4 separate regions of the Homo sapiens genome follow, and regions 1, 2 and 3 are each linked to region 4. Evidence: fine-mapped expression QTL. A gene starts in region 4. Each other region holds a variant in brackets. All regions are shown on one strand. Distances are from middle to middle.

Region 1 (2,618 bases), 40 kb before region 4:
CACAGCTGTACAATTGTGCCTTAGGGGGTATAAAATACAGTCCACTTTGTAATCCCGAAATGGCATGCAGCCATAACATTGTAACTTCAACTTAGCACTGATGGGGAAAGGGATCCTTAAAGTTTAGCATATCACCTCAGAGATCTTTTTTAAGTACCTATTTCTGTCTCCCTTCCCCCTCAATTTTTTTTAAGCAGAGAAGAACATGAAAGAACAGACCCTTTCTAATACACTGTATTTCGCAGTGGGGAAAAAAGGAGAATAAAATGGCAATAACAGAAGCATATTAGCATATTTAAAACACTAGTACATTACCCTGAACTAAAGCATCCTTAAAGTAACATGAAAGCAAGAGAAACTATATTTCATAAAGTGTTGCAAACTTTAAAACACCAAATTGAACTACTCCTATAGAACAATTTCATGCCAGATTGCTTTGGTGGCAAATTAATAAAGGCAGAATTGCTCTTTAGATCTTTAAATTAACGAGATTAAGGAAGACAATGTCTTTCTCTGTGCTTAATTATATTGACTTAATTTCTTAATTACTATTAACTATACTTTTATGTTTTACAAGTCACACTCCATTTTTACAGCTGTTCTTTAATCCTCGGGTAATCTCGTATTCTGAAGAATCACTTGAGAATAAAAACAGCAAAACTGAAGACAAAATTCAATTGGGCTTAATCCACCTGTACATTCTGCCTGAATCAATTCTTATGCCAGTATTTTGAGGCATTCCAGAAAAGTGCCAGACTTTTCAAAGAGAAAAATTAAAATGATATTCTGGTTCACTGAAACTCCAAGGAGTAGGCCTGAAGAAAAACCGTGCATCAGACAAGCACGCACCAGTGGGGTGAGGGAGGACAACCCCAACTGGGGCCCAACACTCCACTACTTAACGTTTCAAAAAATAAAATCAACTGTGTATAAAATCATATTTATACCTAGAAGGTCTAGTGCGACGACACAAAGAAAGCAATTATAAGAAAGGAACTAGGCTAGGCAAGGTGGCTCACGCCTGTAATCCCAGCACTTTGGGAGGACAAGGCAGGCAAATCGCTTGAGCCCTGGGGTTGGAGACCAGCCTGGGCAACATGGCAAAACCTGGTCTCTATAAAAAAGTATAAAAAAAAAAATTAGCTGGGTGCGGTGGCATGCACCTGTAATCCCAGCTATTCAGGAGGTTGAGGTGGGAGGATCGCTTGAGCCCAAGAG[G/T]TTGAGACTACAGTGAGCCATGATCATTCAACTGCACTCCAGCCTTGGTGACAGAGCAAAACCCTATCTCAAAAAAAAAAAAAAAAAAAAAAAGGGGGCGGGGGCAGGGCTGATATTTACTAACAAGACCTCTGGACTGCAAATCCAACACAGATACTAATATGTCATTTCCACTTGGCTTCCAGTTGTATTTAATATGGTCAAAAAATGCATATATTATAAGGAGAAACATAACCCCCTAAACCTCTGCAGGATAAACGAACTCACATTATTTTCTAAAAGAACGCAGCAACCCAGTCTGTCCTATCATCACACCGTGAGCTCAGAAAGAAAATCTGACACACGCAGCAGAAAGTGCAAAATGTTATTTACTAACCTGGTGCCCCTGTGAAAGCAGTTGCTCCATATCACCTTAAAGAAAGAATCCTTACTATGAAACCAATCTCCAAGGCAGCTGATAGCCAAGAGGTGGCAAAATCGACTACCCTGAGAATCCAAATAAACGGGCAAAGCCTTCCTGTTCCCAAGCCCAGTTTTGGCTGACTCCCTCAAGGCAACTTAAGTCATAGCCAAGCCCACAAAGCACTTTAGCCTATAAGCTTTAGTAATGAACTTGAAACCACTCCCCATATGTTAAAGAGACACCGGACTGCTGTGAGAAATAAAACCCACATACAGAATGAGCTACAGCTTCAGGCTGCACTTTTGTACTTGCTGCCCAAGAAAACCATAACACAAACTTAAACAAAGAGAACTCTCACTCCCTTCTCTCCCCTCAGACACTGCAATAAAGTGAATGATTAATTTTAAGCAAGGGGATACAGTCTGCCCTCCATTAGGGCCATGAAATGACTTTTATATTGTTCAAGTTGTGTGGCAGTTATGGAACAGATAGCACTGTAATTTCACATTGCATAAGAGGGACATATGAAGTTATCATTTCTGAGAATCAAATGTAGATAGTATTACTATTTTCAGATAACATTGAATAAGCTTAAAAACCTCATCAAATCCAACGATTAACATAAGTTCAATAGGAAATTTTGTCAAAGAACCTTCTAACTTCTGATTCTGACTTAGTGTCTATAAATCTTAAAAACATTCTTATAATTCAGTTTCACCACCTACATTTAGAATGGATGTATAAGCTAAGACACGTCTTTTAACATGGATCTTTAAGCTGCCTTTTAAAATGGAACTTAATACCACTCACTAAGATTTCAAAATAAGAAATTTATGTTTCATTCTAGAAAAATGTAGTCAATCAATTCCTTAAAGCAGTTAGATCTTAAAACAGAGTCAGTAATGTTCTAGCATATTGTTAGAACATCAGCTTTTTAACACAATGTGTTCACAGTATACTTATTTTCCCCTAGTTTTCAACTCCAAGAACAGTTTTA
Region 2 (2,618 bases), 22 kb before region 4:
GTACCTGGGTGCCCCCAAGTGGATGATGGTTCTCTCACATTGCAAGAGCTGGTTGTACAAAATGCAGCACCCAAGAACTTCATGACCATATTATCAACCTAGGAGAAAAATGTTATGGATTTGTGCACCAAGAAAGGAATCTAAAATACATTTGCATATTTTATAACTCATTTGAATGTCATCATACCCAGAAAATAAAATTCAGGCCATTTTTCCCTTGTTAATATTCATGGTATGGTGTGGTATGTGTATGTGTGTTGGGGGCATGGTACAAACAAGGAAGGTTGATACAAGTTAAAGAACAGCCACCTTCTATGGAGCAGCAAGCATATTATCACTGAATTCTCATTTAGGAAAAGAAAATATTTTTTCCCTGGTAATTTAATGAAATTTAGATATTATTAGAACCAACTTGGTTTTTTTTAAGAAAAAAAAAACTAGAAAAATATTTTGTAAGAAAAAAAAAATTGTATGATTGTCAGCCTCAAGAAAAAAATTCAGCCGGGTGCAGCAGTGGCTCATGCCTATACTCCCAGCACTTTGGGAGGCTGAGGCTGGTGGATCACCTGGGATCAGGAGTTTGAGACCAGCCTGGCCAACATGGTGAAACCCCATTTCTACTAAAAATACAAAAATTAGCTGGGCATGGTGGTACACGCCTGTAATCCCAGCTGCTCCAGAGAATCACTTGAGCCCGGGAGGTTGAGGTTGCTGTGAGCTGAGATCGCGTCATTGCACTCCAGCCTTGTGACAAGAGCAAAAATCCATCTCAAAAAAAAAAAAATAATAATAAATTAACTTTTGTGTTTGTGAGTGCATCTGCACTTCTTTTTTTTTTTTTTTTTTTTTGTAAAGACTGAAAGGAGTATTTCTGGGCTGGTAAACTGATGAGATGAATGACAGAGTGAGAAACAGGCTTATCAGTTTACCAACTGCTGAAAAAACCAAGCCAGGTTCACAAGGTAACAACAATACAGAGGTGATAGAAATAAATTTTTCCTTAATGCATGGGATTCCTGGATTACTCGTATACCTGCATTCATTCAGTTAGTGCTTCAATAAACCAAGCAGTTTGCCTCTGGTTTTCTAATATCCCGTCTCTCTATTAGCTTCCCAAATAAAAACTCAAGCCAAGAGACAATATAACAACAAATAAAACAAGGTAACAAACTTTTATTACACATTTGTTGAATTGTTTAAAAACTTTTCATGTTTCCTGAACACTCATCCAGGAAAGTACTGTCAAGATGATGACGAAACTCAGTTTATTCCTGGACAAAAGAGCTTTGACACATCTGCTTGTGGTTATCTACGTTCATAAAAACACATCACTGTCATCAAAGGCTTAAGACAAAGAAAAGCATTTATTAAGTTCTGTCTATATATAGTACTTCAACTGCCAACTCTGGTAATTTGTTTGAGCTTAGATTCTCTGCGTCATGAGAGGAGTTGGTTTGCATCTGTTAATGAGACTGTTTTTTTGAA[C/T]TGTATTCCTTTACTCCAATATGTATTGCATAACTACCCTGTGCTATGCACTCTGCTAGGCACTGAGAATTCGAGGATGAATAAAACAGACATTGTCCTCAAAAAGCTGGCAAACTCATGGAGGAGGCAGTCTACATGGCCCAGCCAAAAGTCTACTGTGCACAAACAAAGCTGTGCAAACACAGAGGGGAACAGAAGTAATTCAGCATGCTAAGAAAATGGTGGTCAGGGCCAACTCACCAATGCACAGGATTTTTCTATCTACAGGCAGACAAGGGAGGAAGGGCATCCTATTCAAAGAGCTCCAAAGGAGAAAAGCACATGGCACGTTCTGGAACCAAAAAGCCCTGCAGAGGGCGTGGGACAGAGATGGATGTATGTACATTGCAAGGCTGGAAATAAAGTTGAAAAAAATGCATGGCAGCCACATACAGAAGGGTCTTGAATGACACTCTAAGGCGTTTCAGATCCACTCTTGGGTGATGGGAAGTTCATGGAGGGATTTAAGCTGTAGAATAATGTAATCTAATTTATGCTTCAGAAAGATGGCTCTGTAAAACTAGGTACACGAAGTCAGCAGTATTCCTCAGATAAGAGCCCCTTTGGGCAGTGGCCAGAGTGGGAATATCTGTATACAAAAGACAAAAAAAAGGTACAAATGAGAAAAAAATATTTGTGCTATTGAAAACTTGGACATCTTTCCATTCATTTTAAAAGCAAATTTTAAGTGCTACTAACTTTGATGAGTTCACAATGGCTGATGACCCTCAAATTCTTCACTTACTCTTCACTGTCTATGACAGAGGAGAATAAAGCAGAAAACAAAACAAAACAAAATGCATTAATACCAGTTCCTGATTTTAGCCGATAATGGTAGCATCACTCACTTGCTGCCAGATATCAGAATGAAGAAATACTAACTGCTGTTTTTACCTATGTCTCTCTCTTCATGACTACTAAATAATAGTATGTGATGTGGCTGGGCTGAACCACATTGCCCAGAATTCCCCTTCTTGTAGGCTTCCACGTAGGGTCAAAGGATATTCTCTCCTAAGAGGTGGGGAAAAGAAAGGAGACAGCAACATTTTGCAGCATGCATGTACACACATGCCTTTACCTAGTTATTCAATCAA
Region 3 (2,618 bases), 170 kb after region 4:
GTGCTCTTTCAAACTATAGGCCTGTCTTATAGGACTGGAAATCCCTTAATTACTTCAAACCCTATGAGAAGATGCCAGTGTAATGGTTGTAATATTTTTGAAAATAATAAATTGATATGTTTACATTTATATTAACTTCCAAAGCCTAAGTCCTTCTGACTCAAATAGCAGATAGGCTGTCAGGTGGGGGTGAATACCACCCATCTGGGAAATGTTCACGGTCACTTATGATTGTCACAGGTCTGTGGAATGCTGCTGGCATTTAGTGGGTGAAGGTCAGGGACATTAAATCTCCAGCAATGCCTAGGGCAGTCCTACCCAACAAAGATTTGTCCTACCCTAACTTCAGTGCTACTCTCAGTGAGGAACACTGGTAGGACAGCATGGTAGATGGCCTCCAAGACCACGCTGATGATCCCCACCTCCTGGTATTCCACCCTGTGTAGTCTCTCCCACATTGTACTAGAGTCGTATAACCGGTGGAACATGGCAGAAGTGATGCTATGTCACTCCCAAGATTGCAGCTCCTGTCTTGGTCACTGCGTCTCTCTTGGATCACTAGTTCTGGGGGAAGCCAGGTCATGACCAGCCCTACAGAAAGGCCCAATGGTGAAGAACTGAAGCTTCCGGCCAACAGCCATGTGTATGACGTTGGAAACAAATCCTCCAGTCCCAGTCAAGTCTTCAGAGGCTGTAGCCCTGAGTGACAGCTTGACTAAAACCTCAGGAGAGACCTTGAGTCAGAACCACTCAGACAAGCTGGTCTCCGATTCCTGACCCTCAGAAACTGTGGAAGATTACAAATGTTTGTTGTCTTAAGTTACTAAGTTTTGTGGCAATTTGTTATGTAGCAATCGATAACTGAGATAAAGAAAATAGTCATGGCTAAGTTTAATGTCTGTCTATCTATCTATCTATCTATCTATCTATCTATCTATCTATCTATCTTTAATTCGTAGCAAGACTGTCTTAATAGCCAGCCACAATTGACTCAGTCCACAGAGCTCTAACATGAACCATGGCAGTAACTCAGGATATGATGTAACAGAAGTTCATGTCTACCTAGAGAGAAAGGG[G/A]AAGTACAAACTCTTTGAGGAGGAAATAAAAAGATAAGGGAAGTAGAAGAAAAGAAGCATTCAGATATTTGGGTCTTAGCTTCTGATTCCAGGGCCACTGTACTTGGTTGTGCAGTGTTTATTCAAGGAGTCAAGTGAGGGTGGGTATCCAAGCCTTGTTTCACTTACCAAGATTGGCAGCCCTTGTCCAAGGATATCTTTCTGAAAGATCTCACTTTCTAATTTTCATAAGGGAACTGTATTAGTTTCCTAAAGCTGCCATAACAAAGTACCACAAACTGGGTGGCTTAAAACAACAGAAATTTATTCTTGCACAGTTCCATAGGCTAGAAGTCTGAAATCAAGGTGTCAGCAGGAACGTGCTCCCTCTGAGACTCTAGCTGCAATCCTTCCTTGACTCTTCCTAGCCTCTAATAATGGCCATCGAGCCTTTGCATTTCTTGGCTTGCCGCTGCATCGCTCCAATTTCTGCCTGTGTTGTCACGCAATGGTCTCTCTCTGTGACTCTGCCTTAACAGGTCATCTTTCATCTTCTTATAAAGGCACCAGTCATATTGGATTAAAGGCCCAAACTATTCCAGTATGACCTCATCTTAACTAACAACATCTCCAATGATCCTATTTCCAGATAACATTACATTCTGAGATACTAAGGGTTCAATAGATAATATAGGACTTCAATATATCTTTTTAGGGAACACAATTCGACACATACCAAGACCTATACAAGTTAGCATTCTCTCTGCCCACCTTTTGGATCAAATCAAGTGTGTAGATGGAGATAATCAGATATGTTTGGAGGTTTTTCCAGAGCAGGGAGCCTTTCCTAACTTCTTCGGATAGACACTGAAATAAATTCAAGTCCTTTAGAGGAACCAGAGCTTTAGTATGGAACTGTCCAAGCTGCTTAGAAGTAGCTGAGGAACAGATGAAGGTGGAAAGAAGGTTGGAAAAGTGCCCATAAGGTCTCTCGTGTCTCCCATGTGAAGTAGAAGGGACTCATGAGTCCCCACATAGTCTTGTTAGGGATGGCTGAGTAGAGAGCCAGTGAACCTGCCATAGGGCCACCGAGGCATGGAGTTAGAATAAACTTTCCCAACTCTGTCAGCTTTTGCCGCAACTAAAGGACCTGCACTACCAGCAACAGCCTAAGGTCCTGGTGGAATCAAGAGAATGAGCATAAGTTTCACAACCATGAACGTCAGTAGCAGATATCAGCAGGGTTCCCTATAACTGAGAGGGAAAAGAGACATTATCCTGGAGACCATCAAGGGCCTATTTTAATCTGATAATCCAAGGACTAGTGACCCCTCTCCCTGCCCGACCTCCAGTACCGCGCGGATTCCATCTATAGCCAGATACAATGTTGGTGAGAAGACCTGGAAAGGGAGTGAACTCAGAAACACTGCATATTTACCCAAAATGTACAAATTAACCCAAGTGTCTGCTTTAAACTAAAGATATTGCTAAAAGAACTCTTTAACTGACAAGTTTATGTCTCCTCCTAGCTGTTCATAGAATAAAGAAATCATTTATAGAAAA
Region 4 (2,618 bases):
AACATTTAATACTGAAAGAGATTCTTATTCAAATAGGCAGTGTGTAAATGTGGGGTCTGTTAACAGTTCAAATTGCAGATTCCTTTCCTTCTTTAAGTTTTCATTGCACCACCACGAACTAAACCATTTAACATACCTCAGAGGTCTCTGGGTACCTAGTCTCTCAGAGGCCTTTGGAGGCCCACGAAGGCTTATCTTAACTAAAATTGGCAGGGCTGGCTGATAAAGTTAACGGAACTCCCCATTTTGGAGGCAGACTTAGTAATGGTCAAACGAAGAAACTGTTGTGGTCTGTTCTTAAAAAGCTACTAGTATTTAGTGCTTCACAGAGGAAGTAAAGAAAGCAATAATCCGAGATGAGGAGGAGCAAATACAGGCGTGGCGGTAGTTCAGGACTGAGTCTACAAGGGCGGTTCTCAAGGGCGTCACAAAATCCTATGGAAGGCTTGGAGGACGGCACTCCTGGATCTGAGCCCTACGTCCCAAACACCTTCAATCGTATTGTGAGGAAGAAGACCTTTTACACACTCCCTGCTGCTGGCCCCCGGCCCCCTCGCCCCACCTCCGAGTGGTCACATCACACGGCGGGAGCCGCGGTCAGCAGCTGTGATCACACCCCCAGGACCGTGCTCTGCGGGCTGGGCTCGAAGCCTTGGGACGCGGCACTTCCTGGTTGGTACGGGATGCCGGTCCCATCGCCCCCACCAGCCCAGTCATGCCACCGCGCACCCGAACCAAGGGCGCCCGGATGACCTGGGGACACCACACACACTGCACCCGAAGCCCTGTGGCGGCGAGGCGGTGCATCCTGCAGAGGACGCCTGGGCTTCAGCCTGAGCCTGCGCGGCTCTGCGCTCCAGGCAGCCGCCCGCGCGGCAAAAGTGCGTGCCAGAGTTGTCAGCTTTCACCCTGCAGGAATTCCACCCGAAGGCGTGCGAGGGAGGCCCTTGGGGATCGCTAGGGAGTCCGCCGCCGACTCACTCGCTGAAATCCCGTCCAAGTTGGGCGGGGAGCGGCCAGCTGCCCAGGTTGGGCGGAGGAGGGACGGAGGGCGAGGGCAGTGGAAACCCGGCTCCCACGGGCGCCCGGTGATCCGGGTCTCGGCGCGGCTCCTACCTGCAGGGCGAAGGGGCCGCTAGCACCTGCGCGTTGGCGGCGGACTCTCAGGGCTCGGGTGCCTCTGGCACAGCTGGAGCTCAGCGGGAGGGAGGGAGAGAGGGCGGGCCGGAGGGGGCTCTGCGCTGCGCGGCCGGCAGGAACTCTCCGCCCGGATTCGCCCCGGATTCGCAGGGGTGGAGCGAGGCGGTGCCAGGTCCCGGGGCGTCGCGGTGCCGGCTGGAGGCCCCAGCGGGGCAGGTCTCGCGACTGGGCCTCTGATCGCCCGCGTTCCTTGTTCTCTTTTCCCAAAGTTTCATAACTCGACCGCATCACCCTAGGGAATGCTCGCTATTAGGACCATTATCAGGTCCTCTCGAGCCGCCAAGGACCAGCCACCTTTCCCGGAGCTTTGCCTATGATATCTATTCTTCGACTACTGCGGATAGTAGCCACAACTGGTCCAACTTATAAGTAAGGAATCAGCAAATCAAACGGCTAAATAACTTGCCTGAGGTGACATAATTAAGAGACTGGAGCTTTGCTGGAGTCTTTATAAGCCTTCTTGCACCTCCTTAGGGAAGTGTTATCGCCAATTTACAGGTAAGGAAATGAAGGCTCAGAACCAGCCCGAGGTCACACAGCTTAGATGGAGGGGGACGGGAATTTGTGTCCCGATGTCTCTAAAACTGGTTATAATTCAGAAATCTTAGCATAAAATAATAAATTGGGAGCAAAACAGGGAAAAGACCCATTCCACCTATGGAACCGTTCAAACACGGCAATTTTGCTGTTTTCAGTCCACTTAGAATAAAGTCTTAAGAAAAAGAGAACCAGTTGTCATGTGGCTTGAATAGCAGCCCTTTGGGAATGTAATTTTGAATATAGGCCAGTTCCAACCTCATTACACGATATTGCATCCCGCCAAAGCCAGGGGAAGCAATGGCCTCCCCATGCACCAAACTGCTAATAACGTCAGCCACTTTAAAGCATTTAGTGGATATTACACAACTGCGACTGACCAAGTTACATAATGTCTTACTGCACACATGGCATTGCATGAAATGAAAAATATAATATACCAGTCCAAATTAGGGGAGGGGGGCCAAATTATAGTCTGGAACTCAGTTTTCCTGTAACCTACAGTTGCTCAGCCCTCCTTAGACCACATTTTTGTCTCTTGAGCACATCTTTTCCTAATGATAGAAGAGTCACACAGCCCTCACTCTTTCCTTGTTGACATAAATGATTGATGTCTTTTGAATCCTATGATACTGACAGATTTTTACAATTAAACACATGACTCTCTGAGCAGAGTATTGCCTAAGAGGAGTTTAGTAAGTTTCAGACAAGCATGTTACTGGAAGGCAGAATACCCTCTCTCCTCCCCTCTTTCTCAAGCTTTATTAGTCACAGATGGTCTGATAAGTCTTGTGCACACACGTAACTGCATTCTTACAAGCTTGTCTTTAGAAATTATAATGCTTTTGGTTGAGAAGCAGCAGTCTATAAAATTGCATCCC

What was found. PIP is the estimated chance that this variant, and not a neighbour inherited with it, causes the effect.
Region 1: its variant is fine-mapped to the expression of PLD1 in tibial artery (GTEx, PIP above 0.99).
Region 2: its variant is fine-mapped to the expression of PLD1 in lung (TOPMed, PIP above 0.99). The same link has a PIP of 0.9 or more in whole blood.
Region 3: its variant is fine-mapped to the expression of PLD1 in whole blood (TOPMed, PIP above 0.99).

What each region holds. Positions count from the first base shown.
Region 1 is chr3:171,769,601-171,772,218 of GRCh38, forward strand. The region is part of intron 1 of PLD1 (phospholipase D1); the gene reads right to left. Among named protein-coding and RNA genes, the nearest start is that of PLD1, 40 kb to the right of the region's middle. The variant G/T (reference allele first, on the strand shown) is at 1,219.
Region 2 is chr3:171,787,423-171,790,040 of GRCh38, forward strand. All of the region lies in intron 1 of PLD1 (phospholipase D1), which reads right to left. Among named protein-coding and RNA genes, the nearest start is that of PLD1, 22 kb to the right of the region's middle. The variant C/T (reference allele first, on the strand shown) is at 1,486.
Region 3 is chr3:171,977,052-171,979,669 of GRCh38, forward strand. All of the region lies in intron 3 of LOC105374217 (a long non-coding RNA gene), which reads left to right. Among named protein-coding and RNA genes, the nearest start is that of FNDC3B, 61 kb to the right of the region's middle. The variant G/A (reference allele first, on the strand shown) is at 1,077.
Region 4 is chr3:171,809,283-171,811,900 of GRCh38, forward strand. PLD1 (phospholipase D1) reads right to left here and starts at 1,201. Exons shown (of 27, transcript NM_002662.5): 1 at 1,117-1,201.